Linked DNA regions of Homo sapiens: region 1 is linked to region 2. Evidence: fine-mapped expression QTL. A gene starts in region 2. The other region holds a variant in brackets. All regions are shown on one strand. Distances are from middle to middle.

Region 1 (14,949 bases), 61 kb before region 2:
AGAGAGAATGCCAGGGATTTGGATCTGTGGAAGCGGCGAAGCTGACAGATTCACTGATGGACTGGATGGAAAAAGTGAGGCGCTAAGGGTGACTCCAAGGCATTAGAATGAACATCTGGAAGAAAGAGTTATCCTGCTTGGAGATGACAAGACTGTGGGAGGACCCATGTTTGAGATGCCTATTTGACATCCATAGGAGATGCTGAGTACGGAGTCTGGAAAATGGGAGAGAGGACTGGGTGGGGGATGTAAGTGCAGGAGTTGTCAGCATATGGATAGTACATAAAGCCAGGAGTTTGGAGACTACTATGGGGGTGAGTTTAGACAAAGGAGAGAAGGGGTCCATGGTTTTCAGCTGAGGGCTCTCCAATATTTACAGGTGAGGAGATGAGGAAGCCAGCCAAGGAGTTGGAGCAGAAGCAGGCACTGCAGTAGGAGGACTAAGAGAGAAGAAACTCCTAGAAGCCAAGGGTCTTTAAGGAAGCATCGAGAGAGGACTGATCGCCTGCATCCAATGCTGCTGATGGAGGATGGAATTGCTCACAATATATGGCACTACTGTGGCCATTAGTGACCTTGATGACAGCAGCTTTGGGGGGCAGTGTGACAGAAGCCTGATTGAAATAAGTTTAAGAGAAAAGAGGAGGATAGGAAGTGGAAACAGCCAGTAGAGACAACTTGTTTGGGAAGTGTTACTGTTCAAGAATCTGATTTAACACTTTAGGTTTTGCAAGAAGAGAAACAGATGAAATGATCTTTCCAGCTACTAAGGCTGATTATTACTACCTTTGCTGGGAGGCTCCTTGACCTATGTGATGGGATACATAGATGCCTGGTTCTGATGAACTCATGATGTGAACCACAGGTTTTTCCCTCTCAGAGACTTATTTTAAGGAGGACGAAGGGGAAAAGACAAGGAGAGAGTAATGAAAGAAAGGGACAAGAAAAATGGTAAGAAAGACTTTTAAAGAGTTTCAAGCCATGTTAAGTTTCCTAAACCATTTCTTTTCCATTGCAAACATCACTAACATAACTCCCAAATTTCCTGGTTAAATTTAGCACAGATGTAAAATTTTGAGCACTGGTGGACATGGGTATCTAAACCAATCATCTGATGAGGAAATTGAAGCTTAGAGAAGGGAATTGACTTCCGGGCACTCCCAATTATTAGCCGCGTGGTCTTAGACAAGTTACTTTTAACCTCAGCGTGTTAGTTAATCCATCTGTAAATTGGCAGTGTAAGAATACCCATCACCAATCTAACGTAATCATGCTTAGATTGTTCGAACAGCAGCTATCACATGGTAATACTCAGTAAGTGTTTTTTATTTATTTTTGAGAGACGGTCTCAATCTGTCGCCCAGGCTGGAGTGCAGTGGATCAATCATGGCTCACTGCAGCCCCAGCCTCCTGAGCTCTGGTGGTCCTCCTGCCTCAACCTCCCAGGTTTCTGGGACTACAGGCATGTAGCAAAATGCCCAGCTAATTTTTTGTATTTTTAGGTGAGACGGTGTTTCACCATGTTGCCCAGGCTGGGTTATTCTTTATTTCTGTTGCCCAAGTCACGTGGAGGAATTGTGTCAGATTGGAGTAAGAAGAGGATGATTCTACCTTATCCCTCCCGCCACAAAACACACACATGCGCTATGAGTTAGCTTTTCATTTCTGACCCTCTAATATCCCTTTTTTGGGGCTCCAATCAAAAAGACTTTTCTTTATTCCATACTATGAATATAAAAAGTACTATAATTGAGGACCTGCTGGGTGCAGTGTTAATTTGCTTTTACATATGTCATCATACTTAATCCTCACACAATCCCTACTATCCCATTTCCCCCCTAAATATCCCATTTGATGGATCAAGAAGCCAGTGTTCAAAGCTTCAATAACTTGCCCAAGGTCACACGGCTGGAGATGGCAGATTCAAACCTGGAGTCTGAGACTCCACATCCTTTCACAAGTCTGCCCAATAATATAACACTAGTACCCAATGCCATGCACTGACTTAGTGACTTGCAAGGAATCTGAGGCGCCAGGGCTCTATGTTAAGTAGTTTTAGAACAAGAAATGCTTCATCCGAAATGTATTTTAAACATTAGACTAGGTAGGTATGCATCCACTTTCTTGGACGTGTTTAAAACTTGGGTGAGGCCGGGCATGGTGGCTCACACCTATAATCCCAGCGCTTTGGGAGGCCAAGGCGGGAGGATCACTTGAGGTTAGGAGCTCGAGGCCTGCCTGGCCAACATGGTGAAACCCCGTCTCTACTACTAAAAATACAAAAATTAGCCAGACTTGGTAGTGGGTGCCTGTAATCCCAGCTACTTGGGAGACTAAGGCAGGAAAATTTCTTGAACCCAGGAGGCGAAGGTTACGGTGAGCCAAGATGGCGCCACTGCACTCCAGTCTGGGTGACAGAGTGAGACTGGTGACAGAGTGAGACTTGTCCGAAAAAAAAAAAAAGAAAGAAAGAAACTTGGGTGAGAAATCCACGTACAGTTGAATTTATTCTCACCAGGCAAGGACTGGCCTAGTGTCATGGGGGGTGGGGGACAGTAGGGGAAGGGAACAGGAAGTCATTTGCTGGTGGTTGACCGGGCCCCCTGTGACTTCTCAGAGTTATAGAACTGCCACCAACAGTCACAGCAGTTCCTGGAGAACAACGAGAAACTTGGGGTCAGCCAGAAGGCACCTGTGGTGATATCACGAGGTACAGCGGTGGAAAATACACACTTTCTAAGGGGCTGTTTCCCCACTTTGCTGAACACAGGGTACCAGAGAAACTAATTATAGCCACTGAGGGCAATTGACATTTACAAGCATCCGTGCTGTGTGCAGTGCTTCTCCCTCTACTGATCTGTGGCCAGAGCCACGCCTAATGCATGTGGTGGAGGCCACAGGATCCAGGCAGCCTGGGTGTGACAAGGACATCCTCCTCCCTACCCCTTCTTACTGCCAGGAAATCTCTCACACTACTGCAGGTCTGCTATATTCTGATGTGATTATCTCCTCGGACTGTGGGGTAGCATCACTTCCTCAGGGGCAGAGAGGGAACCTGGCCCTTCCGCTATCGGTTAGTCCAGGAAGTGGTGGTTCTTAGGACAGGCAATGAGGATTTGGAAGGAAGGCCTTAGGTGGGAGAAGAAGAGAGAATCTCCATGTCTCTGGGCCTTGCTTTCTTATGCTAGTACTCCCAGGAGTCTGGCAAAACTTGAGGACTTTTCTGGGGGCGAGAGGACAGGGATCTCTGTCATACAGTGGTAGCTTTGAGGGAACCCCCTGAGAATGGGCTGGTCCTAAGCATAGTCCTGATCCTGAGCTGCTAGTAAAGTCTTGTTCAGTTTGTTACACCTTGGCCTCGGCTGTGCTATGGGAAATTAAGGCATCAATCTGTGTGACTACTTAGACAGGACGGGAGAAGGGGAGATGAGGCTATAATCATCCTGATTCCATCTAACATCTCCAAATTGTGAGGCTAGAAGAGCCATGACCGACAGCTTCTACCGAGAGAAAAGGCAAGGCTTTTGTCTTTCTCTTCCTTCCAGCAAAGCTTTCTGGGGCTCCCCTCTTTAGCCTGGTCTGCTGTTCAAGATTCAGAAAACTGAACTGGACTCCTTAGACAGGAATTTTACAGAACTGGGTGACATTGTGGTTGCATTACCTGCCTTCAGGTGGAGAAAGGACATGTCTGCAACCCAAACCTCCTTACAGAGCGGGGCAGACTGAAAGCTCTGAGCAAGGTCTCCCACAGGCAACCTTGCCTCAGGAGGTGAAAGGACATCCTGATGTCCCAAGTCTCTGGGTGGACAGCGATTCCCCATGCAAGAGGCCACACAAGGGATATTAGAGGGGCAGAGATGAAAAGCTAACTCACGGCATATGTGTGTGTTTTGTGGAGGGAGGATAAGGTAGAATCATCCTCTTCTTACTACAATCTGACACAATTCCTCCATGTGACTTGGGCAATAGAAATAAAAAATAACCCAGCCTGGGCAACATGGCAAAACACCGTCTCTACTAAAAATACAAAAAAATTAGCTGGGCATTGTGCTACATGCCTGTAGTCCCAGCAAGCTGGGAGGTTGAGGCAGAAGGACCACATGAGCTCAGGAGGCTGGGGCCGCAGTGAGTCATGGATTGAGCCACTGCACTCCAGTCTGGGCAACAGAGTGAGACCCTGTCTCAGAGCTCTCCTCTGCAGCTGAGATCCCCCTTCCTCTCGCAGTTCTCACCAGCCCCAGCTTGCTGCTACTACCGTGCAGTTTTTCTGCCCCCACAGAGGGACACTGCATCACGATCAGGAAATTCCACCTCCTCGTCCTCTCTCCACAGTCCCTGCTGCCTCTAATCCAATACTGGAAAGAGAAAGCTGAAACAGGGACAAAGAAAGGAAGCACTTGAATCTCCTCTGTTTCTGGAGCATTTTCAAATGACAGGAAAATGTAATTTTGACTACAATTCAAGGGGTTGAACACCATGACCCTCTAGTCCTTGGCGGAGGAGTGCTGCCTCTGTCAGCAAATAGTGGCAAAGCCAGGGGACCACGGTGGAGGCTGGAGACCTCTCTCTTTGTGGTTACAGAACCTGGCAATGGCTGGGAAGCCATATGTTGTGTTCTGAGACTCAAGCATAAACTTCTGCTGGATGTTTGGATTTTGGTTTTTTAATTATCCCCTGTTTTGAGAGAGACAAAAGGGGTGTGTGTCTATGTGTGCTTTGAAGGAAGTAGGGGAACAGATGGGTGGAGAGAATAGAAAGAGGAGAGGAGCCGTCATTACTGGGCTTTCGGATCCGTGTTTCTCCAGCAGTTTCTGCTGTGTCTCTTTGGTGACACATTGGGTAAATGGCCCTAAAAGATGATAGCTATGCCAAAGCTACAACAGCCTCAGAGGTTCTATTGATTCAGAAGCTTTCTGGATTGTCTCTGCCGTAGCATATGCACCACCTCATTCTTAACAGACACTGACAGCAGCGCTACAACTGTTTTGAAGGAGGCAACTTTTGATGGCAGCAATGCAAGGTCTGTCCAGACCATGAAGTCCCACCTCAACCGCCAATCAATAATAAGACATGACATCTTAAGTGTTATTTAAATGCTAAGCACTGTGTCAGCATTTAACATTTATCTCGGCTGGGCGCAGTGGCTCATGCCTGTAATCCCAGCACTTTGGGAGGCCGAGGCGGGCGGATCACGAGGTCAGGAGATCGAGACCATCCTGGCTAACACGGTGAAACCCCGTCTCTACTAAAAATACAAAAAATTAGCCGGGTGTGGTAGTGGGCGCCTGTAGTCCCAGCTACGCGGGAGGCTGAGGCAGGAGAATGGCGTGAACCCGGGAGGCGGAGCTTGCAGTGAGCCGAGATCACGCCACTGCACTCCAGCCCGGGCGACAGAGCGAGACTCCATCTCAAAAAACAACAAGAACAACAACAAAAAATTTATTTCATTTAGTCTTCAGAACAACTCTATGACATGGGTACTAAAATTGCACTCACTTTACAGATGAGAGAAGGAGAAGGTAAATACTTTGTACAAGGTTATGCAGATAATGAGTGCATCCCGGGCTCAGACACAGGCTTGCCAGACACCTCTGTTCTTCAACACCATCCTACCCTGCCTTCCCATCATCAGCTGACATTGCTTCACTCTGTGCGAAGATGGAAAGAGGAAGCACATTTCAGGCTTAATTCTCACCATCAGTATCTTCAGTTTTACTGATGAGGAAACTGAGGGTCACAAGTTGTGAAGCAATCTGTCCAAAGTCACACGACCGTGAAGCAGCAGAACCAGGAGTCAGAGCCAGGACTGAGTTCAATCCTTCACTCTCTCCATTTTACCCCGCTG[C/T]CTCTGGGCCAAATACCTGGAAAAAGAGGTCTGCCTCTCACTTGCTTCAGGTTTTAAAGTAAAAGCAGAAGAGGAAGTTCAGAAGGTGTTCTTCTTCAGTGTCCCCTAAATATGAGATTTTGAGAAAGGCTTGACCCTAAGGGCCAATAGGTAGCAATTTCAGGAAGGCCGATTTAGAGAGAATTGAATGGCCTTGTAAGGTAGTGAGCTCCCCAAGAATGGAGGAGTTCAAGCGCAGTCTTGATGACTGTGGCAACACTGTAGACAGCAATTGTTGTTTTGGCTGTCCAGTATCTAAGCACTCTTCTTATTTAGGGGAATCCCAATATGAGCGAAGGGGGAGCCCCACTAAAGAAACTGATGGGGCAGATGTTCTGTCTTTCAGCTTCCTGACAGATGATGCCCAGCATATGACTTAGACGAAGGCAATCAACTACTCCCATTAAAGACTTTGGAACCTAAGGTGACCAAGAGTGGAGGGGTCACGGCAAGTGTCTGCAGCAGTGTCCTTGACTCCTGCCTGTTTCCAGAGTCTGATTATCCATGCCCCTGATAGTTCTGTGAGCCACCTAAACTCGTTTCCTGCTTAAGTTATCCAGAGGTGGTTTCTAACCTGGATATAAACATCTGATGGAAGGCTGCACTGGATGAGGTCACAAAGCCAGCTGCATATCTGAGTTACTGGTGGAGTTCAGTAAAAATACAGATTCCCATGTTCCCCAAGACCTACTGGATCAGAATTTTCAGGAATAACCCTGAACATTCATTTTTTTTTTTTTTTTTGAGATGGAGTCTCGCTTTGTCGCCCAGGCTGGAGATGACTGACATGTGGCCAGATTTGGGAGTGGCTGAGATAAATAAACTTTAGGGCCCCCAAAATAAAATACTATGATTTTCAAAAAAACTCTTACCAAGAATTTGGCCATGGCTCTCAGAAAAATGCAACATGCCTATAGTTTCTTTATAATTGCTAACATAAAGCTTATCTTTTTGGACAAATCACACACACTCCTAAGAGGCTAAAGCTGTAATATATCTTCTATTTCCATAGGATATTCCTTCCAAGGCCTTTTGCATCTACAGATCTATTATCACAGTTGATGTAACTTCCCACCTTCCTCAGGTGGGTGAGATCCATGATTTCACATGCATTCGTCTGATGCCGCAGAGTCAGCTGACCACATGGCTTTTTACTTCCCAAACCAAAGCCTCTCTTCGTCGTGTGGCTATTCTTGGGATCTACAGTGCACCTCCTGTGTGCCCTAAAGAGAGCTTCATCCCATGTGAGCCTCAACTCCTCTGTGTGAAAATGAGGAACACTGGGCCGGGTGCAGTGGCTCACGCCTGTAATCCCAGTACTTTGGGAGGCCGAAGTGGGCGGATCACAAGGTCAGGAGATCAAGACCATCCTGGCTAACATGGTGAAACCCCGTCTCTACTAAAAATACAAAAAATTAGCTGGGCGTGGTGGCGGGTGCCTGTAGTCCCAGCTACTCGGGAGGCTGAGGCAGGAGAATGGCGTGAACCCAGGAGGCGGAGCTTGCAGTGAGCCGAGATCGCACCACTGCACTCCAGCCTGGGCGACAGAGCGAGATCCATCTCAAAAAAAAAAAAAAAAAAAAAAAAAAAAAACCACCCAGAGAAGAAAGATGAATGTCCAGTCAGCTTCCTGGGGCTCAGCTCAGAGATGTACATCCCTGTACCACTATTCCTCATTCATCCAGGAGCAAAATCCCCTCTTCTCCTGCAAATGTAACTGCTGTTAAGAAGCTGCACTTGGTAGTGGAGTTCTATATACTTCAGGGCGTTTGCTTTTGTTTGTGCAACACCACAGGTAGGAAGGTACCTGTGAAACCCATGGAGTTCTCCTCTTGCCTCCCAGCTAGTCAGGGCTGTTGGGTACTTTCTGGGGTAGAAATTCCCTAGCTTCCCTTGGTGACCCTCCTGGTGCTCAACAGGATGCAGAATGTGAGGGAAAAAGAGCGAGCACCAACAGGACCCTGGTTTATGCCTATTACTCAGGGCCAGGATGGAAGCAAGCATGAGAGCCCCTGGGTCCATTTGGGCTGCTGAGAAAGCCCCTCTCGTGTGACGTGCGTCCCCCACCAAGGAAGCATCCAAGTCCACCCTGGGTGTGTATCTACCCAAGCAGCTCCTTAGGAAAGTCAGCAGACCTCCCACCTCCTCATGCTGGAGCTTCATGTCAGCTACCGCCCTCCAGAGGACTTTGAGGACAATATGGCCATCTGGTTTCTGTACAATCTGCATCCGTATAGTGCTCATAAACTTATCTTCCAGCTCGTTCAAAATGTACACAGCTGAATTCTACTGCTGACTTTGGCACTTGCTCCTGGTATCTGAGAAGAACAGATTCAATTAAAAAGGAAATAACAGATGCTGCAAATCACTCCCTCATTTTCAGAGAAGTTTTTTCCCCCTAGTGCCCTGAATTACTTGATGATGAACAGCAATGCAGTAAAAAAAAAAAAAAAAATGCAGCTGGCATGACAACTTCCAACTTGGCTTCAAACCAAGGGGAAGCTGCGGGCTGTCCTTTCTAGATGGTCTTTATGCCCGGCACATTCCTTTCTTTGGTATGGGTATTATTGTGTAGAGAACTTGGCTGGAAGTAAAGGGATAGAAAAAAATGAACCCTGGGGTTCTTTTAGCCTTAAGATTCTTTGCTATTACTCACTCTTCCTCACAGTATCTTTGTGAGGGGTGTATGTAGTCAGTGGGACATTGAAGGCAGGATTAGTATTCCCATTTTAGAGATGGAAATGCAAAGGCCCAAGGACAGCAGGTTATTTGCAAACTCCAGTAAAGGAAATTGGTTCTATCAGAAAACCTTGATTCTTTTTCCACATGCACCTGTGCCCGTTACACAGCATGAGGTAGTAATGAGGCCAAGGCCAGGCTGAAGTGCCCGGGGGCATGCTCAGGAGACTTAGAGGCATACACGCACTCCCGGCACATGTCCTTGCAAGGCACTTAAAGGCTGCCAGTGCCCGGCCTTCCTCGGCTCCGTTCAGGCCTGCTTATCACATCCTGCCCTGTGCTCAGCTTCACTCTGCCTGAGTCTTGTGAGCCTCCCTTGGACTCAGGGGTGACCATCTTGTTATTGATGACTTGTGATGGGACCCACGTGGCTGGAGAGTGACGAAAGAAAAATGGAAGGAAAGAGATGCATTTGGAATAGGGTCTGATTACCTCTCCTCTCTTTCCCTAAGCACTAAAATGATTACGAATTCCAAGGTTTGGACAGGAGATGGGGGACCCCCAAAAATGTCTGCTACAGAGATTTTGGGAGCCTGGGACTGCAAGATTAGGAGCTCCCTTGCCAGAGTGTATAAAGAGGAAGGGTGGGGGCTCTCTTCTGGAGAATTAACTGAGGAGATTCTGCCTGGACACTGAAGCACAGAGTCAGGAGAGCCCAGGCTTCCTTCCATGAATCTCGTTTCCAACAGTCATCAGAGAACAGGGCTCCCACACTTCCTAACCCATTGACTTTGCTGGGACCTTATTTTCTGAAACAAGAGTCAAGACCAATGTTTCCTCTATGGCCTGTCAATGAAAAGGGATGATTTGAAAATTATGATTATCCCTGAAAATCCAGGGTATATGCCTTTATGTTCCCATGGCTGCTCTACCATCTCCACCCCCACCACCCTGCCCCCAGGACAAAGCCTACCCACCTGGGGTTCCTCTCCTTATGGAATGAGAGTCAAAAGCTCTAGGGAAGTGGTATGCGGCATGGGCTTTCTGTGTTCCCATTGCCTACCAATTCTACATGCCCCGTCCCCCTCCCCAATTCTCCCCAGCAGGCCCTTATGGGGCAGCTTCCACCCCCTATACCACTTCTACTTTGGTGCCTTTATTTGTCCATTTTTGGCTATATCGGCATTAGCTATGATTTAGCAAGATCACACGCTTCTGGAGGCAGAGATTGAGGATACCACGACCAGATGGATGGATGAACGTTTGACTTCTGGCTCTGCCACTTTTCAGGTGGGGGAGATCATGTCTGGTCCTTAATGTCCCTGAGCCTTCTTTTCAAGAAATGGGATGAGACTGGACCTGCCTTGCAGGGTGGTTGTGATGACACAGAGATAATGTGTGCAGAAGGCAGCACAATGCCTGGCTTGTAATAAGCGTGCACAACAATGGTGGCCCCACCATCTCTCCAACCACCAGCCCGCTCCGGGACTTGCTCTTTCGCCTCCTCCTAAATGCCTTTCCTAAACTGCATTTACCTCTGTCTTCTAACTGTTGGCCTTATCTTTCTTCTGCTCTGAGAACCTAGAAGCTAGACCATGTTGTTTATTATGATTATCTTAAATCCATGATTCAGAATGCTTTTTTTTTTTTTTTTTTTGAGACAGTCTCACTCTGTCGCCCAGGCTGGAGTGCAGTGGTATGACCTCGGCTCACTGCAGCCTCTGCCTCCTGGGTTCAAGCAATTCTCCTGCCTCAGCCTCCCAAGTAGCTAGGATTATAGGTGCCCGCCACCATGCCTGGCTAATTTTTGTAATTTTAGTGGAGACGGGCTTTCACCATGTTGGCCAGGCGGTCTCGAACTCCTGGCCTCAAGTGATCTGCCTGCCTCAGCCTCCCAAAGTGCTGGGATTACAGGCGCGACCCACAGCCCCTGGCCTCGAGAATGCTCTTTTGATCTAGGCAAATGAATGAACTAACAAATGAACAAACACATAAACCAAAAACAGGTTAGAGCTCTAGTTTTTGAGACCGTGTGATAATCTCTTCCAGAACTCTAGGAGAAAAGGCTAGGTGGGGACTCAAATTCCTCCCTTGCAAAAGCCTTAGATTAGATAATTCCACCCAGGATGTCAGGAATGCTTGATGACTTGGAGCATTTCTGCTGATTGTAGGCCTATACCCAGAAAGAGTTAACCAGCAGCTGCTGGGTTTATTTTCATTCTCTTTAATAAGGGAATCAAAGCAGCAGGACACAAACACACTGAATCTCTAATCACTCCAACACCCACACATGTTCCCCATCCCCTTCTGATTTAGTAAAGTCAAAGCTCGCTTACCACGCAATACATTTGACTGGCTTCTACAGCGGCTCACTTGTAAGTGATGAAATCTCAGCTTTTCCCCCAAACCTTTATTCCTGAAAGTCCATCATTACCAAATTCTTCCCCTGGAATAGATATTGGTATTGCCCTCTTGCTGCAGCCTCTTTTACAACGTAGACATGAAGGTGGGGCTGGGGATGGGAAAGTGAAGACTTCTAAGTCTCCAATAACATAGTTTGTTTTGAGACAGGGTCTCGCCTTGCTCTGTCACCCAGGATGGAGTGCAGTCGTGTGATCATGGCTCACTGCAGCCTTGCCAGGCTCAAGTGATTCACCCATTTCAGCCTCCTGAGGAGCTGGGACCACAGGCATGTGCCACCACACCCAGCTAATTTTTGTAGTTTTTGTAGAGACAGTGTTTCACCATGTTGCCCAGGCTGGTCTCGAACTCCTGGGCTCAAGCCATCTGCCAGCCTCAGCCTCCCAAAGTGCTAGGGTTACAGGCATGCACCACCGTACCTGACCATGAATGAGTTTATCATGTTTAAGTTGGCTGGGTTCTGCATTAAGGGAAGGTGATGGGAAATGACCATGTACTGAACACTGGCTAGATACATTATATACATGTTCTCATTTCTCAGTAACTGTGACAGAAGGATTATTATATGCTTTCGGCTGGTGAGAAAAATTGAAACCTAAAATGGGAACTTGCCCCATATTACATGGCTCCTGGAAGACAGAGCCAAGACTCATGCCAACATCATACTTAGAGATGCCTGACTCCAAAACCTGCGTGGATCTTTTTGAGGGATGCAAGTGAATGGTGCTGTCTATTTGGCAATAAAACTTTTTGGAAGAATGAATGAATAAATAGGTTACCAAAAGCCAAACAAGAAGGCCGGGCACAGTGACTCACACCTGTAATCCCAGCACTTTGGGAGGCCAAGGTGGGCGGATCACTTGAGGTCAGGAGTTCAAGACCAGCCTGGCCAACATGGTGAAACCCTGTCTCTACTAATAATACAAAAAAATTAGCTGGGTGTGGTGGTACATGCCTGTAATCCCAGCTACTCGGGAGGCTGAGGCAGGAGAATTGCTTGAACCTGGGAGGCGGAGGTTGCAGTGAGCCGAGATTGTGCCACTGCACTCCAGCCTGGGTGACAAGAGTGAAACTCCATCTCAAAAAAAAAAAAAAAAAGCCAAGCAAAGTTCAAAATGACTTAACAAAACTCCTTGGAGAATAGTCAGCATCTCACCTCTAAGGAGCAACCTCTCCTAGCCTCTCTTCTCTAGCATGTTGAAGATGGTGGTGAGAACCTGCTCTTAATTCCTTTCCTTTGGACACTGAGTCTCCAAAGAGTAAGTGGCTTGGAACTAAAGCCCAGTTTTCAGATTTCTGGCTCAGTGTGTTTCCTAGTATTATGATGTCAGGAGAAGAGATAGCCAAAGAAGAACTCTATCGTAGTATTCAGGCATCATAAATTATATATTAGAGGCCAGGTGCAGTGGGTTCATGCCTGTAATCCCGGCACTTTGGGAGGCCAAGGCAGATGGATCGCCTGAGGTCAGGAGTTCGAGACCAGCCTGGCCAATATGGTGAAACCCCATCTCTGCCAAAAATACAAAAATTAGCTGGGTGTGGTGGCGCACACCTGTAATCCCAGCTACTCGGCTGTGGCAGAAGAATCGCTTGAACACAGGAGGCGGAGGTTGCAGTGAGCCAAGACTGCGCAACTGCACTCCAGCCTGGGTAACAGAGCGAGACTCCATCTCAAAAAAAATAAATAAATAAAAATAAAAATTATATATTAGATTAGCTGTTTATTGCTACTGGAAGAGACAAATGAGACAATAGCCTTTAACTGCCACCTGAGATTTAGGTTGCTTATTCATTCAGCAAATATATATTTACCAGGCATTGTGGTTAGTAATGACAAAAAATAAAAAATAAAAAGATAAGCTGTCAGAAACCTCACAACTTAGTGAGAAAGAAGGCTCATTCAAATAATTGTCTTTTATCATGGCAAGTGCTAAGCAAAGTACAAACAAGGTGCTTGGGCAGCCCAGAGGAGGAAGAGGCAAATTTGTTCTCTTGCAAGGAGTAGAAGAGGCACCACGCAGAGAAGGCACACGTTAGGAAAAGGTTACCACTCCCCGTCAGAAGCAAGAGGAAAATAGTGGAAAAGCCTGCAGAGTAGGGTTGTAGCCTGTTCTTCTGGGACAGGAGAGTGTCATTGCCTAATGGCTTCCAAGAAAGTAAGTAGGTCAGCTAGTCCCAGATATTTGGATTTTATGGACCAATATCCTTTGAAAAACAGGGGTCTATGGGGTAGGCGGGGGTGGATTGTGTGGATTTAATGTTTAATTTTCTCCAGCAAAAATCTGCATCTGAAATCCCCATGATCAATTACCACCATCAGTTCATAAAAGTAAGGATGTTTTAATCACAAAAAAAGTAGAAAGGGTACCATCTCAGAATAAAAGGAACTTCCTTCTAAGGAAGATCATCTACCAGTCTTCCACTGGCATTCTTTTTTACTTGACTCATTTCATTGTGGACTAATGACAACAGAATTTAGGTCCAAAGTCAGGACTGAAGAATGTAGCCCATTAACCCAGATAGATTTAGAGACAAACAATTTTCTTTTACCTAGAATGGTGCAATCTTCTGCCATATAAACATGTTAATCTACAGAAATGTGCAGCTGAAATTCTCCATCTTATATTCCCTTTTCAGTATGTGATTGCGTACATATATGTTTCTTCTTGGTACTCCTAGCCAAGGATTTCTATAACTATCCATCTACATAGTTCCTCTAAAAGCCTACAAGTCCACTCGTTAGATTCCAACATCAGGAGATCAGCAAGCCTCAAACTCATCATTCTGAAGGCTATCCTTGAGCCCTTCCACAGACACCCTCAGAAAATCAGCAACTTCCTAAAAGAATCTCGTATCTAGGTACTGGAGTAAAATGCAGAATGTACACTCTCTAGCTTAACAACACAAGTTGTTAGCAACAAAGCTATTTCTCCAGACCTTTATGGGAGGAATTTCCCCACAGATGGCCAGATGTGCAAACAAGACCTTTGAGTGCCTTTCAGAGCTTGGATTATAGAAGCCAGCAAAAGTGTATAGCAATGGAGAGGGATTCTTCCAAATAAGCCTAAAGTCCCAAGCCCTAGATCTGAATCCAGGGGTGGCATTAAGAATTAGAGCTCTGTGGCGCATGCCTGTAATCCCAGCTACTTGGGAGGCTGAGGCAGAAAAATTGCTTGAACCCGGAGGTGAAGGTTGCAGTGAGCTGAGATCACGCAACTGCACTCTAGTCTGGGCAACAAGAGCGAAACTCCATCTCAAAAAAAAAAAAAGAAAAAAAAAAAAAGAAAGAAAAGAATTAGAGCTTTGGTAAATAAAGAAGGAATTTTTTGGCTTTTCTCTTCATGATGGACATTTTGACCCCTTCAGAATGGACATGAGGTGGCCTGAGAGCTGAACCCAGGCAGCCCCCACTTGTGTCCCAGTGCCTCCGTGTGACTTGTGGAGTGGATGCCACACCTGTGATCACAGGAGTCCAGCCTGGTCAACGCCTCACAAAAGAAGGGCATCAGCTGCTGCGGATTGATTTAGTCAGAGCAAGGGTGGAACGAAGTCCTGTGATAAAGTTGAACGAAGATGGGACGTCAGCAAATCCATTGGCAGCCATTTTCTTTCTACTCTCAAAGCCCCCCAGCCTCCCTATTAACTACATGAGGTGGTAGATGGCAGTGGATGCCCCCATGAGTTGGTGAGATTTAAGGTCCCTGGTGAGGAAGCCCAGAAGCCACAAGCACATTTGTGACGGTAGCGCCTGGGGCAATAGTCCTCCTTGATTAGGGCTAGAGAGCAGGCCTTGCTTCAACAATTTCTGTGAGACACTGTCATAGCGTGTAAAGGGAAGGCTGGCCCTCGGGCAATGGGTAGTGGACTCTTGGATTGACTGTCAGTAATGGAGGGATTTTAGATTTTTTTCTTTTTTTCTTTTTTTTTTTTTTTTTATGTTTTTCGAGACAGAGTCTGGCTCTGTC
Region 2 (14,949 bases):
GGATTCCCCTAGAGCCTCCAGAGGGAGCACGGCCCTGCTGATGCCTTGATTTCAGCCCAGCGATACTGATTTTCAACTCCTGGTCTCTACAATTGTGAGAGAATAAATTTCTGCTGTTCTAAGCCACTCAGTTTGTGACAATTTGTTACAGCAGTCACAGGAAGCTAATACAGTAACTAACACTTCACGATTGCTCACTATGTGCCAGGAACTGTTCTAAGCATTTTACCCACATTCAATCATTTCTATCCTGGCCCTACTGGCCCTAGATGGTGTGAGGCCTGGGCTGTGCAGATAGAATACCTGGGTTTGAATCCCAGCTTCACTGCTTACTGTTGTGACCTTGAGCAAGTTATGCAACCCTTCTAAACCTCAGTTGCCCAATTCATAAAATGGGCATGTGGTACCTTCCTCATTGAGTTGCTAGGAGGATAAAATGGGTAATAAAGATATAAGTACTTAGAACAGTATGGAGTAAGTATTCAATACATGCTAGCTATTAGGAGACCTCAGGGGTTAAACAAGCCAAAAATGACCCTTATGCTAATCTGTCAAGACATGTCAAGACCTCCTGGACTCAGAGCAGGAGAAAAGATGTCCCTTTAAAGCTGATTTGAATTTGAATCTCAAATATGACTGAGGAGTTCAGTTAAGTATTTCTTCCCTTAATTAAGCAATTTAGGTTTTTAATGCTGGCCTTATTTCAAAAAAGGCAGTAGCCTGAGACTATGCTAATTCTGCAGCATTCCCCAGCTGACTTCCCCACTCCCACCTCCAGCTTTTTTTTTTTTTTTTTCTTGAGATGAAGTCTCGCTCTGTAACCCAGGCTAGAGTGCAGTGGTGCGATCTTGGCTCACTACAACCTCCACCTACTGGGCTCAAGCGATTCTCTTATCTCAGCCTCCCAAGTAGCTGGGATTACAGGCATGCACCACCCCACCCAGCTAATTTTTGTATTTTTAGTAAAGACAGGGTTTCACCATGTTGGCCAGGCTGGTCTCAAACTTCTGATCTCAAGTGATCCGGCTGCCTCAGCCTCCCAAACTGCTGGGGTTACACCCAGCCCCACCTCCAGTTTTTAAGGAGAGCTGTGCACATTGATCATCCACACCGACGACTTCACCTGAAGCGTCCACACCTGACACACCCCTGCAGAACCCACATTTTCTCCCTGTAATTCTGGTATCAGGAACTGGAGCCCTAGTATTAGGAAGTCGTATTGGGACGTCAGTGGAAGGCAGAAACCATCAGTCCATTTTGCAGCCTTCTAAGGCCACTCCAACGTGTCCCAGCAGCCTGGAGAATAACAAATTCAAGGGTCTACTTTGATTAACAGATTACAACCAAGTTAGTAGAGAATAAACAAGGTTTGCCCAGAGATAAGGGAGGGGAGACATAAAGTTATTGCCTGTAATCCCAGCACTTTGGGAGACCGAGGTGGGTGGATCACCTGAGGTCAGGAGTTCGAGACCAGCCTGGCCAACATGGCAGAACCCCATCTCTTCTAAAAATATAAAAATTAGCCCGGTGTGGTGGCGCATGTCTATGGTCCCAGCTACTCAGGAGGCTAAGGTGGGAGAATCGCTTGAACCTGGGAGGCGGAAGTTACAGAGATTGCGCCACTGCACTCTAGCCTGGCGACACAGCGAGACTCCGTCTCAGAAAAATAAATACATAAATAAAGTTATCACCTGAAAAAAAAATGTGAGAAGGGAAAAAAATAAAAAGGACTTTCATTTACTTGGCCCTCACTGATTAAGTTTGGCCAACTCTCCTGTTCAGGTGCTGTAATTCAAAGATGAAAAGAAGCTGCGCCCAGTCCGGACGCCAGGCCTTGTGTCCCCACCTAAGAAATCTGCACGGCAGGGATTAACCAGGGGAGAAGGGCCTGGCCGCTGGGCCTTGGCTTCCTCTTAGGCAGAGTTCCAGCCCCTGAGACTTGAGCCGACCGGCCTGAGACGACTCCGGCCGCCGCCACCCTATGCTGGCAAACAGGCCTCTCCCCAGCAGGCTCCAGGGGCAGCCACCTGCGCTCTCCCTGCCCTCCCCTACCCCACTCTCCTAGAGGAAGGATGAAGAACAGCTCCCCCTCCTTACTCTCAGGCACCCACAGATTTCTGAGCTGCCGTCACCACTGACGAGAACCCAGGTCCCCTGGAGGGATCGCTTCTCCTTCTGATTCCATCCTCCCCATCAATGAACACGCAGGAACACCCACGCTCCCGCTCCTCCTACTCCAGGGGGAGACCGAACCCGAGAGCGACATCCGGAGCTGGAAGCCGCTGCAACGGGGGCGCCGGCCTCCCTGCCCCGCAGTCTCCCGCCCTTTCCCAGACACCGGAGGATCCCAGACCAGCCCAGTATTCCAGACGGAGAGGGTGCCCGAGTCCTCCGCAGGGCCCCGCCTCCCTAGGCGCTCGGCGCTGGAGACCTAGGGGAGCGCGCGAGAGAAACGCTGAGCTCCACCCGGCTGGGGCGGAGGCTGAGCACTATACCCGGGACTCGAACCCCGCGCCCTCGTCCCCCAGCTTTAGGCATCCCACGGCGAGCCCTGGCCCAACGCCCCCGCGCCGCGTCTTCCCCCGCACCCCCGCCCGGAGCCGAGTCCCGGGTTGCCAGCGCGCCCATCCCGCCCCCAACAGGTCTCGGGCAGCGGGGAGCGCGCTGCCTGTCCCGCAGGCGCTGGGAGGCGAGCCGGAGCGAAGCCGAGGGCCGGCCGCGCGCGCGGGAGGGGTCGCCGAGGGCTGCGAGCCCGGCCACTTACGCGCGGGCTCTGGGGAACCCCATGGAGAGGAGCACGTCCAGCGCCGATCCATGCTTGATGGTGCCGGGGCGCTGTTGGCGGTTCCTCCGGGGGGTGACTTTGCTGTACAGCTCCTCTCTCGCAGCCATGCCGAGCGGACTGGGGTGGCCGTACTGAGCCATGGCTCAGCGGCCAGCCATCGCCAGGGAAGGAGCCCGAGCCGGATGGTTCGGGAAGGAGGAGGGAGTCGGGCTGGGCCAGGGGAGGGGGCTCGGGGACCCAGAGCCAGGCAGGAGGCGGCGGCAGCGGAGGCGGCGCTCCGAGCTTCCCCAGTGTCGGGACTCTGACGCTTCCTGGTGAGGCCACAGGAGCCAGAACGCCGGCAAGCGGCCGCTGCGGGACCAGCCTCAGCCACTCGGGCCCCCGGCTGCCCCCAGCTCTGCGCCTGCAGTAGCCCTGTCTCCTCCGCCCCCTTCCCTCTCCTCGCCTAGCAGTCCGGGAATTTGCAATGAGTAATTTTTGAATGGATCAAAAAGGAAAAGGAGCCTTGTGGGCTGGCCCTGACTTGCCTGTACCCGGGCCCCGCCCCTCTCTTAAAGCGGCCGCGCTGTCCGAGGCTGCTCCGTGCGGGCAAGAGCTGTAGTCGCGCTACTTGGAGACGGAGGATCCCAACCTTATGGGCTGCTTGTGTGCTTCACCTCCCGAGAGTCACCCCCGGCGCCCCAGCCCTCTCCTTGGCTGGCATACCCGCCCAGCTGGGCCTCAAGACAGGAGATCAACCCATCTCAAGTTTCATGTGATTCTAGATGCGGTTATTAATGGAAATTGGGTGAACTGGTGGATGATACTAATGGACCAGAAGGCCAAGCCGTAAGGCCTAGGTAAAAGGTTTTGCTTCTCAAAGATCCTGCAAAACCCAAAGGGTTGTTAGGACCATCGGAAGTTGAGTTCCCAATCAGCCGGCCAAGTGGCTGCACTAAAGACCTACTGCGCTCTACAAGGTTATGGTCAGTGACTGAATAGTGCCTTCCCGGTGGGGCAGAGGGGTTGGGGAGAAGGACCTCAGGTTCTCAGAGGTGGCAGGACCTGGGAGGGGACAAGAAAAGAGGGACAGGGCAGAAAGAAGAGGGAAGGGAAAAAGAAAGGAGGAAGGAGGAGGAGAAGAAGGAAGGGCTAGGAGGGTAGAGGAAGAAGGAACAGAGAAAACATACTTCCTAATTATAAGAGGTGTTCAAAAGGGAACGGGCTTATTTCATTAGGGAGTGGATATCCTGTCAATAAAAGGATTCAAAGACGGACCGAATCACCACTGCACAATAATAAGTGAATTGTATCATAGGCTGGACAAAACTACTCCCACTGCAAAGATGGTGGAAGCCACAACCATATTGATGCCCCATGCCCCACCTGGTGAATTTGGCTGGGGGATGCTAACCCTCTTTCGTTTGGAAACAAAGTCATTGTCTTCAGTCAGGGACAAGGGTCCCACTTGCTATAATGAAAGAGGCAATGAGTACACCCTAACTGATAGTCTTTTTTGGGTAATAATAATAATAAAACCTAACATTTATTGGGCTCTTGTATGTGCCAGTCATTGTGCTAATCGTAATGAATGAACTCACTGAAGTTTTATACTGACCCTAGGAGTGTGTTTAATCATTATCCCAGTTTTACAGATGAGAAAACTCAGCTCAGAGAGGTTGGGGAAGATCATAGAGCTGGTAAGTGCGTAGCTACAGCACTCGTATCCACTGCGGTGCCTTAGACAAGTTACTTCTCTCTACAGCCTAATTTCCTCATTGGTATGGACCGTGGTAACCTAACCTTGCACACACTGGGTTTTCCAGAAATGTCAGTCCGGGCCTGTCCCTGGTTGGAATATGGGGGAGGGATGGTGACCAGCACCCATGGAGTGGCTTTTTGAGGTTGCTTTATAAGGCCTGTGAAGGTTTTACCAGGGGAAATGATACAGTGTAACTCCCTGAGCCCGGAATTGGTTTCCTAAAGAATAGCCAGTGGTGTTTGGAAGCAGGGAGATAAGACAGCTGGAGCTTAAGCAACAATGTGTATTAATTCTGCCTCCTGCTGTACAAAGGATGAGGGAAAATTAATGCTTCCTGGGTAGTAGCTGCTTCCAGAGCAAAGGGGATATCCTGGAGACCTTGCAGAATGCTCTTCCAGGACATGGAGCAAAAAGACAAGACTGGGCTGGCAACACCATACCTAGTATTAGCCTCCTTGGATGTGTTCGGTAAAACATGCTGGATTTTATCCAGTATTCTGAATTGTTTCCAAATGCCTGGGCTGAAAGTCAAATGATCTGGATCTTAGTCAAGAGATAATAATGTATGTGAAAGCGCTTTGTAAACCATAAAGCGCTACATAAATGATAACTCAAATTTATTGAGTACTTACTATATGCTGGTGTTGTTCTTTGCTTCTTACATATGTGACTCAAACAATTCCTTGACAAGACTATGAACTAGGAACTACTTTACAAATGAAGGTGCTGAGCCAGAGGTCAAGTATCTTGTCCAAGGTCACATGGCTAGTAAATGGCAGAGCCAAGATTTGAACTCTTAACATTTGGCCAAACAACTAGTTAACGACCATTGTTATGATGATAAAAGGACACCAGCCTTTAAGATAGTTTTTTGACTCCATCTATGCCCCTTGACATAGAATTGCTGGATCTCTGTTTCTCCAGAAAAATTGAATTAATTGTCTTTCTCCCTGCCTTTAGGCAAACTGTAAGATAAAGGAAATGATGCATATAAAAATAGTTTTAGGTAGACTGGAAAAAGCACTATGAAAAACTAGGCACCTGAGATGCAAACTGTTTTTGTCTGGGACACTTTTACAGAAATCCCAGCTTGGCTTCCTCACTTGTCTTCAGCTCAGTGCAAACCCCTGTTTTATTTAGGACTCCTGCCATTTGTTCTGCACTGGGTTGGGGGGCTGGCAATTCAGATGCATTGTGCTTTAATTGTGTTGACGTTGAAAAGCTAGGAAAAGCTTCATAAATGTCTACACTGTTCTATTACAAAGAGAGAAGAGGGGGGCTGGGTGCGGTGGCTCACCCCTGTAATCCCAGCACTTTGGGAGGCTGAGGTGGGCGAATCACAAGGTCAAGAGATCGAGACCATCCTGGCCAACAAGGTGAAACCCAATCTCTACTAAAAATACAAAAATTAGCTGGGCATGGTGGCATGTGACTGTAGTCCCAGCCACTCCGGAGGCTAAGGCAGGAGAATCGCTTGAACCTGGAAGGCGGAGGTTGCAGTGAGCTGAGATCATGCCATTGCACTCCAGCCTGGTGACAGAGCAAGACTCCATCTCTAAACAAATAAATAAATTGAGAGAAGAGAAATGACTATTCATCTGGCAGTATATCTTACAGTGGCCAAAAGAAGTGAGATGGGAGTAGGGGTCTTGCACAGGGACAGAGCTGACACATCAGCATGAAGTTCCTCCCTCAGAAGGGAAAGCAAGTTGACATGTCTCCGTGTGTGGTCATGTCAGAATCCACTCTGGACCACAAAGCTCTCTTTGTTCATGTGAGCATGTTTAACCCTCCCTCATTGGCCCCTGCCATATTTTTGCTATGGTACATCCTCTCAGATGGCCAGAGGGAGACCCAGGATGGACCCAGTTGGCTGCACTCACAATTTCTGAAGCATGTCCTATATCTTCTCCTTCTCCTTCACTCTGTCCTTGAGGAACGGTCAAGTAATAACAATAAGAACATGCAGTAGGTCTGTAATTCTAGTACTTTGGGAGGCTAAGGCAGGTGGGCAGATTGCTTGAGCTCAGGAGTTTGAGACCAACCTGGGCAAAATGGTGAACCCCATCTTAATTAAAAATATAAAAATTAGCCCAGCATGGTGGTGTGTGCCTGTAGTCCCAGCTGCTTGGAGGGCTGAGGCAGGAGGATTGCTTGAACTTGGGAGGTCGAGGTTGCAGTGAGCCAAGCTGAGATGGCACCATTGCACTCCAGCCTGAGTGACAAAGTGAGACCCTGTTAAAAAAAACAAACAAGGCCTGGCGCGGTGGCTCATGCCTGTAATCCCAGCACTTCGGGAGACCGAGGCGGGTGCATCGCGAGGTCAGGAGTTCAAGACCAACCTGGCCAAGATGGTGAAACCCTGTCTCTACTAAACATACAAACAAATTAGCCAGGTGTGGTGGCAGGTGCTTGTAATCCCAGCTACTCGGGAGGCTGAGACAGAGAATGGCTTGAACCTGGGAGGCAGAGGCTGCAGTGAGCTGAGGTCACGCCCGCCACTGCACTCCATCCTAGGCAACCGAGCGAGACTCCGTCCCAAAACAAAACAAAACAAAAAAACAAACAAATAACAACAACAACAAAAACAGGCAGTAAAGTCTGCCCACTGTTTCAAATCCTAAAGGCTGGGGTGTTGCCTTGCCAAACAAAGGCAGCTTTGGAACTGCTGGGAATGACTTTCACCCCTAGACTTTAAGGGGATCCTTCGTGGTCAGAAGATTTTGAAACCATGTGCTGCCCCTCTCTGGGCCTCAACTTCCTTGCTTGCCAAATGAGGGGATTAGCTTAGCCTGGGGATCGCTAGGATTTTGTCAAGGGACCCCCAGGAACTTTGAGGGACAGGGGTTGGGGTCACCCAACTGAGGATTAAGAGGGTAGTGTGGTATCCTCTTTTCTTTCATTGTAAGTCTATCAGCTTTATATGTTGGGAGTTTTTTTGTTTTTTGTTTTGTTTGTTTGTTTTGAAACGGAGTCTCTCCCTGTCACCCAGGCTGGAGTGTAGTGTCACGATCTCAGCTCATTGCAATCTCTGCCTCCCGGGTTCAAGCAATTCTCCTGCCTCAGCCTCCCAAGTAGCTGGGATTACAAGCATGTGCCATCACGCCCAGCTAATTATTGCATTTTTAGTAGAGACAGGGTTTCACCATGTTGGCCAGGCTGGTCTCGAACTCCCAACCTCAAGTGATCTGCCCGCCTCAGCCTCCCAAAGTGCTGGGATTATAGGCATGAGCCACAGGGCATGGCCAAGATCTAATTTTTTTAAGTGTTTTTTTCTTTCCTTTTTTTTTCTTTTGTTTTGTTTGTTTTGCTTTGTGTTTTTCAGGGTCTTGCTCTGTCACCCAAGCTGGAGTGCAGTGGTCTCAACTTGGGCTCAAACTATCCTCCCACCTCAACCTCTTGAGTAACTGGGACTACAGGTGTGTCCCACCATGCCCAGCTTCTTTTTTTTTTTTTGGAGAGATGAGGTCTTGCTGTGTTGCCCAGGCTGGTCTTGGACTCCTGGACTCAACTGATTCTCCTGCCTCAACCCTTCAAAGTGCTGGGATTATAGGCATGAGCCACCACACCTGGTCCCAAGATCTCATTTTGAATAGACTTGTTTTGTTTTGGGTAGAGACAAGGTCTTGCTATATTGCCCAGGCTGGTCTCTACCTCCTGGCCTCAAGTGATCCTTCTGCCTTCCTCTCAGCCTCCCAAGATGCTGGGATTAAAGGCAGGTGAACCACCTCTCCCAGATGAATAGACGTTTTTAAATGTAAATTTAGGCTAGATGTGGTGACTCATGCCTCTAATCCCATCACTTTGGGAAATCAAAGCAGGAGGATCCCTGGAGCCCAGGAGTTTGAGACCAGCCTGGGCAACATAATGAGACCCTATCTTTATTAAAAATAATAATAATAGACCTGGCACTGGCCAGGCGCAGTGGCTCACACCTGTAATCCCAGAACTTTGGGAGGCTGAGGGGGTCGGATCACCTGAGGTCGCGAGTTCGAGACCAGACTGACCAACATGGAGAAACCCCGGCTCTACTGAAAACACAAAATTAGCCGGGCATGGTGGTGCATGCCTATAATCCCAGTTACTCAGGAGGCTGAGGCAGGTGAATCGCTTGAACCAGGGAGGGAGAGGTTGCAGTGAGGCGAGATCACGGCATTGCACTCCAGCCTGGTCAACAAGAGCAAAACTCCATCACACACACACACACACACACACACACACACACACACACACACACACAAAATAGATCGGACACAGTGGCTCATGCCTGTAATCCCAGCATTTTGGGAGGCTGGGGTGGGCAGATCACCTGAGGTCAGGAGTTTGAGACCAGCCTGGCCAACCTGGTGAAACCCCATCTCTACTAAAATACAAAAATTAGCTGGTCATGGTGGTGCATGCCTGTAGTCCCAGCTACTTGGGAAACTGAGGCAGAAGAAGTGCTTGGACCGGGGAGGTGGAAGTTGCAGTGAGCTGAGATCGCACTATTGCACTCCAGCCTAGGTGACAGAAGGAGACTCCGTCTCAAAAAAATATAATAAATAAATAATTAAAAAAAAAAAAACAGACCAGGGCTCACATCTGTAATCCCAGCACTTTGGGAGGCCAAGGTGGGAGGATCACGACGTCAGGAGATAGAGACCAGCCTGGCCAACATGCTGAAACCTCGTGTCTACTAAAAATACAAAAACTAGCTGGGTTTGGTGGCACATGCCTGTAGTCCCAGCTACTCAGGAGGCTGAGGCAGGAGAATTGCTTGAACCTGGGAGGTGGAGGTTGCAGTGAGCCAAGATTGTGCCACTGCACTCCAGCCTGGGAGACAGAGCAAGACTCTGTCTGAAAACAAACAAACAAACAAACCCCAATCAAACAAAAAAAATCCAGGACAAGTCTTTGTACAAGTATGGCTCTCTGGATTGGAGACCACCAGTGTTGGCCAGCATCTAAGCAAGGAAGGGACAGGTCACCCTCTTTCTCTTTTCTCTCCTCTCTCCTTCCTTCCAAAAGACTCCTAGGCAAAAGAGATGCTTCATCTCTGGAGGAATCTGATTGTACAAGTTTCCTGTGGTAACTGTAACCGATGACCACAAACTGGGTGGCTTACAACAATTAGAAATGTTAATTTCACAATTCTGGAGGCCAGAAGCTCTAAATCAGAATCCCTGGGCTAACCTCAGGTGTCAGCAGGGCTGCGCTCCCTCTGGAAGCTCTGGAAGGGAATGTATTTCTTGCCTCTTCCAGTTTCTGGTGCCTGCTGGAGTTCTGTGGCTTGTCACTACATCCTCCTAGTCTTTTTAAATATAATTTAATATTTTTTTCCGAGACAGATTCTTGCTGTGTTGCCGAGGCCAGAGTGCAGTGATGCGATCTCAGCTCACTGCAACCTCCGCCTCCCAGGTTCAAGCGATTCTCCCGCCTCAGCCTCCCGAGTAGCTGGGATTACAGGCACACGCCACCATGCCTGGCTAATTTTTGTATTTTTAGTAGAGATGGGATTTCTCCATGTTGGCCAGGCTGGTCTCGAACTCCTGACCTCGTGATCTGCCTGCCTCAGCCTTCCCAAGTGCTGGGATTACAGGCGTGAGCCACCGCGCCTGGCCTCCCCCAGTCTTTAAGGCAGCATCTTCAAGTCTTCTTGTTCTGTCTTCACATCACCTCTGTGTGCATCTCTCTGACATCTCTTTTTACCTTTTCTTTATAAGGACAGTTGTGGTCGCAATTAAGGCCACTTAGATAATCTAGAATAGTCTCTCCATCTCAAGATTCTCAATTTCTTTTTCTTTTTTTTTTTTTAGATGGCATTTCGCTCTTGTCACCCATGTTAGAGTGCAATGGTGCAATCTTGGCTCACTGCAACCTCCGCCTCCCGGATTTCAGCAAGTCTCCTGCCTCAGCCTCCCAGGTAGCTGGAATTACAGGCATGCACCACCACGCCCATCTAATTTTTTTTGTATTTTTAGTAGAGACCGGGTTTTGTCATGTTGACCAGGCTGGTCTCGAACTTCTGACCTCAGGTGATCCACCTGCCTCGGCCTCCCAAACTTCTGGGATTACAAGTGTGAGCCACCACAGCTGGCCTAAGATCCTTAATATCATTACATCTCCAAAAACCCTGATTAGGACTTGCTATCTCCAGGTGGCCATTATTTTACCTACCACACTAGTATTCCTTAGAGCAGCTAATTTTGAGGCTGAATGGGCTTCAAGGTTCAGGAGAAGCTTTTTCAGCCTCATGACTTAGGTTAAGGGGAAGAGATAGATTATGGGCAGGGACAAGAAATGAGTAAGAAAATCATACTTGCCCAAGCCTTTTGGGAAAGGCCATACTTCTCAATTTATGCTGTTCCCTCTGCCTGGAATTCTTCCTTCTTCTGGCCTCCTTTAAGAGGCCTTGCCTGACCTCACTTCCCTTCTTTGCCCACATTGCATAGATGGGGCAGAGAGGGTGGGAAGCAGGACCTCAGGTTCTCAGAGCTGGCAGGACCTGGGAGGGGAGGAGAAAAGAGGGACAGGGCAGAAGGAAGAAGAGGAAAGGGAAATAGAAAAATGGAAGGAGGAGGAGAGGAAGGAAGGGCTAGGAGGGTAGAGGGAGAAGGAACAGAGAAAAGACACTTCCTAATTATAAGACATATTCAAAAGGGAATGGGCTGATTTCATGAGGAAGTGGATATCCTGTCCTCTGTGACCCCTTTATCATAGCACCAAGCACAATGAAGGGCATTTCATTTGCTTAAGTGCTTCTCTCCAGGGTAGAATGGGAGCTCCATAAGGCTCCATGCATCTTTCTTTAGCTGTGCCCTCAGTAGGGGCTTAATAAATGTCTATTGAATGGACTTGAATTGCATTTCAGCTGAGAGGCATCTTGATAGCACAAGTACAGTTGCATTTTCTCTTCTCCCTGGTTTTGAGACCAAAGCCAACAAATTTTCTTCCACCCCATAGCCGCACCTTGGCTGGACTGGCTCAGAGCCCTGGTCATAATCTTTCTTCTCCCTCCCTTGATTTTGTTGGTAATTAGACAGACCTTCATCCCCAGCTCATGTCTGGTGCACAGAGTGCTGTGAGTAACCTCAAGGGGATTCTCCTTAAAGGCAGTCCCTGAAGGGTCTGTCTAAGGGGCACACACAGGAAGTGGAGCAAGGAGAACCGGAAGTTTGAGGAGGGGAGCATCAAGGGAAAATGACCCTCCTAGAATGCGCTGGCCTGAACCAGCAAGAGAAATATTTTAGCCAATCTCTAATGTTCCATGGGAAGTGTGGTTTGGAAAACACATCTGTAGATGACAAGAGGCACAGTTCTTCCAGTTTCTTGGCTCTGACTTTTTACATTAGTCATTGCCCTCCCACCAGACTGTGTGTGGGTGCCTCTGGGGCTGAGTGTGCAAGGTGAGCCTGGACGGAGCCTCCTAGGAGCTTCCTTAGGGCCTGCTCCTCTATTAGCAGCTCCCGTTAAGGGAAACTAAGAGAGGGGAAGAAAAGCAAGCCCTAATCCACCTCTTAGCTCAAGGCTTTAATTGAAGAGCTGGGGACTGAGACTGCTCCTGGCCTTCGATTGTCTGTGCCACTTCAGCCCACCTAAAATGGCACACTCTTGTTCCTCTTTGGCAATAGTGTTTACATAGCTCTTTACAATTTCCTAGCACGTTCAGGCATAATACCTTGTTTAATTATTATTCACCTAAGAAAACAAAACAACATGGGAAAGTTGCTTCAATACATTTTTCTTTGGAAGAACAACAACAAAAATTTGAGGCTCAGAAAAATTATGTGACTAACCCATGATAATAGAGTGATGAAAGATGGTAAATCAGTGTTGAAATGCAGATTTTCTGAAATTAAAGCTATACATTAATGTTCTTGTTTCTTTCTTGAGCAGGGTCTAGAAATGTCTTTTTATTTTATTTTATTTTATTTTTTTGAGACAGAGTCTCACTCTGTCGCCCAGGCTGGAGTGCAGTGGTGCGATCTCGGCTCACTGCAAGCTCCGCCTCCTGAGTTCACGCCATTCTCCTGCCTCAGCCTCCCTAGTAGCTGGGACTACAGGCGCCCGCCACCACGCCCGGCTAATTTTTTTATATTTTTAGTAGGGACGGGGTTTCACCATGTTAGCCAGGATGGTCTCAATCTCCTGACCTCGTGATCCACCCGCCTCGGCCTTCCAAAGTGTTGGGATTACAGGCGTGAGCCACCGCTCCCGGCCTAGAAATGTCTTATGACTTGGTGCTCTTAGGAGGAAAGGGCAAGTTCCTTAAAGCAGCGAAGATGAATGTTTCAGGTGAAGCCAAGTGAAGGTTTAACTCACTCCTTCAGCCTCTGAAAGGCATCTAAAATAGAAATTCTCTCAGGATGAAGGTTGAACTGTCCTCTGGAGTCACACTGTATTGCTAGTAACCCTCATCATGTCTCAGGAATGCCTGGGATGAGGAACAGTGACCTGGAAATTTATTGATTGCAAATTGCATTTAAAAATTGCAGTGGACCAGGCATGGTCACTCATGCCTGTAATCCCAGCACTTTGGGAGGCTGAGGTGGCCAGATCGCTTGAGGTCAGAAGTTCGAGACCAGCCTGGCCAACACGGTGAAACCCCGTCTCTATCAAAAATACAAAAATTAGCTGGGCTTGGTGGCGAGGTCCTGTAATCCCAGCTACTTGGGAGGCTGAGGCAGGAGAATTGCTTGAACCCGGGAGACAGAGGTTACAGTGAGCCAAGATTGCACCACTGCACTCCAGCCTGGGTGACAGAGCGAAACCTTGTATCAAAAAAAAAAAAAAATATATATATATATATATATACACACACACACACACACTCACACACACACACACACACACACTCACACATATATATATAGGCCTGGTGCAGTGGCTCACACCTGTAATCCCAGCACTTTGGGAGGTCAAGGCTGGTGGATCACTTGAGGTCAGGAATTCGAGACCAACCTGTCCAACATGGTGAAACCCTGTCTCTACTAAAAAGATGAAAAATTAGCCGGGCATGGTGGCGTGCACCTGTAATTCCAGTTACTTGGGAGGCTGAGGCAGGAGAATCACTTGAACCCGGGAGGTGGAGGTTACAGTGAGCTGAGATCAAGCCACTGCACTCCAGACTGGGTGACAGGGCAAGACTCTGTTTCAAACAAACAAACAAAATAAACAAAATAAAGTAAAAATAAAAATTTTAGTGGGCCAGGTGTGGTGGCTCATGCCTGTAGTCCCAGCCCAACCCAGCTGAGGTGGCTGGATTGCTTGAACCCAGGAGTTCAAGACCGGCCTGGGCAACATGGTGAAACCCCGTCTCTACAAAAAATATACACAAAAAATGAGTTGGGCATGGTGGCGCACGCCTGTAGTCCCAGCTACTCAGGATGCTGAGGCAGGAGAATCCCTTGAGCCTGGGAGGTCAAGGCTTCAGTGAACTGTGATGGCACCACTGCCCTCTAGCCTGGGTGACCTGTCTCAGAAAAAAAAAAAAAGCAACGTGAAGATCAGGTGCGGTGGTTTAGCCTGTAATCGCAGCACTTTGGGAGGCCAAGGCAGGAGGATCACTTGAGCCCAGGAGTTTGAGACCAGCCCAGGCAACATAGTGAAACTCCATCTCCACAAAAAAGAAAAGAAAATTTGCAGAGACAGCATACTTGGCATCTAGATTTTGAGTTCTAAGTATCATTTTCTACTAAAACGAGCCAGAGCTTCATGGAGAGATGCTGATTCCAGGTCAGAGGCAGGGCAATCGCAAGGTGGGCCTAGAGTATCTTGTGCTAGATCCTTGATTGGTACTTGAATCCCAAAAAAATCAGCTACGAAGGACGTTTTTGGGACAGTTTGGGAAATTTGAATGTGGACGCAGTGTTGGATGCTGTTTTTGTATGAATGTGAATTTCCCTAGATGTGATACTGGTGTTGTGATTAGGTTGTGATTATGAATGTTCTTGCCCTTGGGAAATGCAGGCTGGAGTTTTCGGGGTGAAATGTCATAATATGGGCAGCCTTCTAGATGATTTGGCTAAAGAGAAGTGTGTGTGAATAGAAAGAGTGAAGCAAGGTGGATATGGCAAAAACCTGCTGCTGGTGAATCTAGGTGAGAAAACATATGAGGTTTTGTTGTATTATTCTCTTTGTATTATTCTTTCCAATTTTCTGGGGGTTTTAAAATGTTCATTTTTTTAAATTAAGAAATGAAAATGTTCAATTTAAAACAAAAAATTAAGAAATTGTGACTGAGCATGGTGACTCATAACTGTAAGCCCAGCACTTTGGGAGTCTGAGGTGGGCGGGATTGCTTTAGTCAAAGAGTTCGAGACCAGCCTGGGCAACATGGCAAGACCCTGTCTCTTAAAAAAATATAAAAAATTAGCCGGGCATGATGGTGCCTGTCTGTAATCCCAGCTACTGGAGAGGCTGAGGTGGGAGAATTGCTTGAGCC

What was found.
Region 1: its variant is fine-mapped to the expression of UBASH3B in whole blood (TOPMed, PIP 0.92).

The regions. Positions count from the first base shown.
Region 1 is chr11:122,705,425-122,720,373 of GRCh38, reverse strand. All of the region lies in intron 1 of UBASH3B (ubiquitin associated and SH3 domain containing B), which reads right to left. Among named protein-coding and RNA genes, the nearest start is that of UBASH3B, 57 kb to the right of the region's middle. The variant C/T (reference allele first, on the strand shown) is at 5,846.
Region 2 is chr11:122,644,026-122,658,974 of GRCh38, reverse strand. It overlaps UBASH3B (ubiquitin associated and SH3 domain containing B), which reads right to left and starts at 3,253. Exons shown (of 14, transcript NM_032873.5): 1 at 2,765-3,253. The coding sequence starts at 2,925. RefSeq lists a silencer at 2,594-2,643 and an enhancer at 2,847-3,348.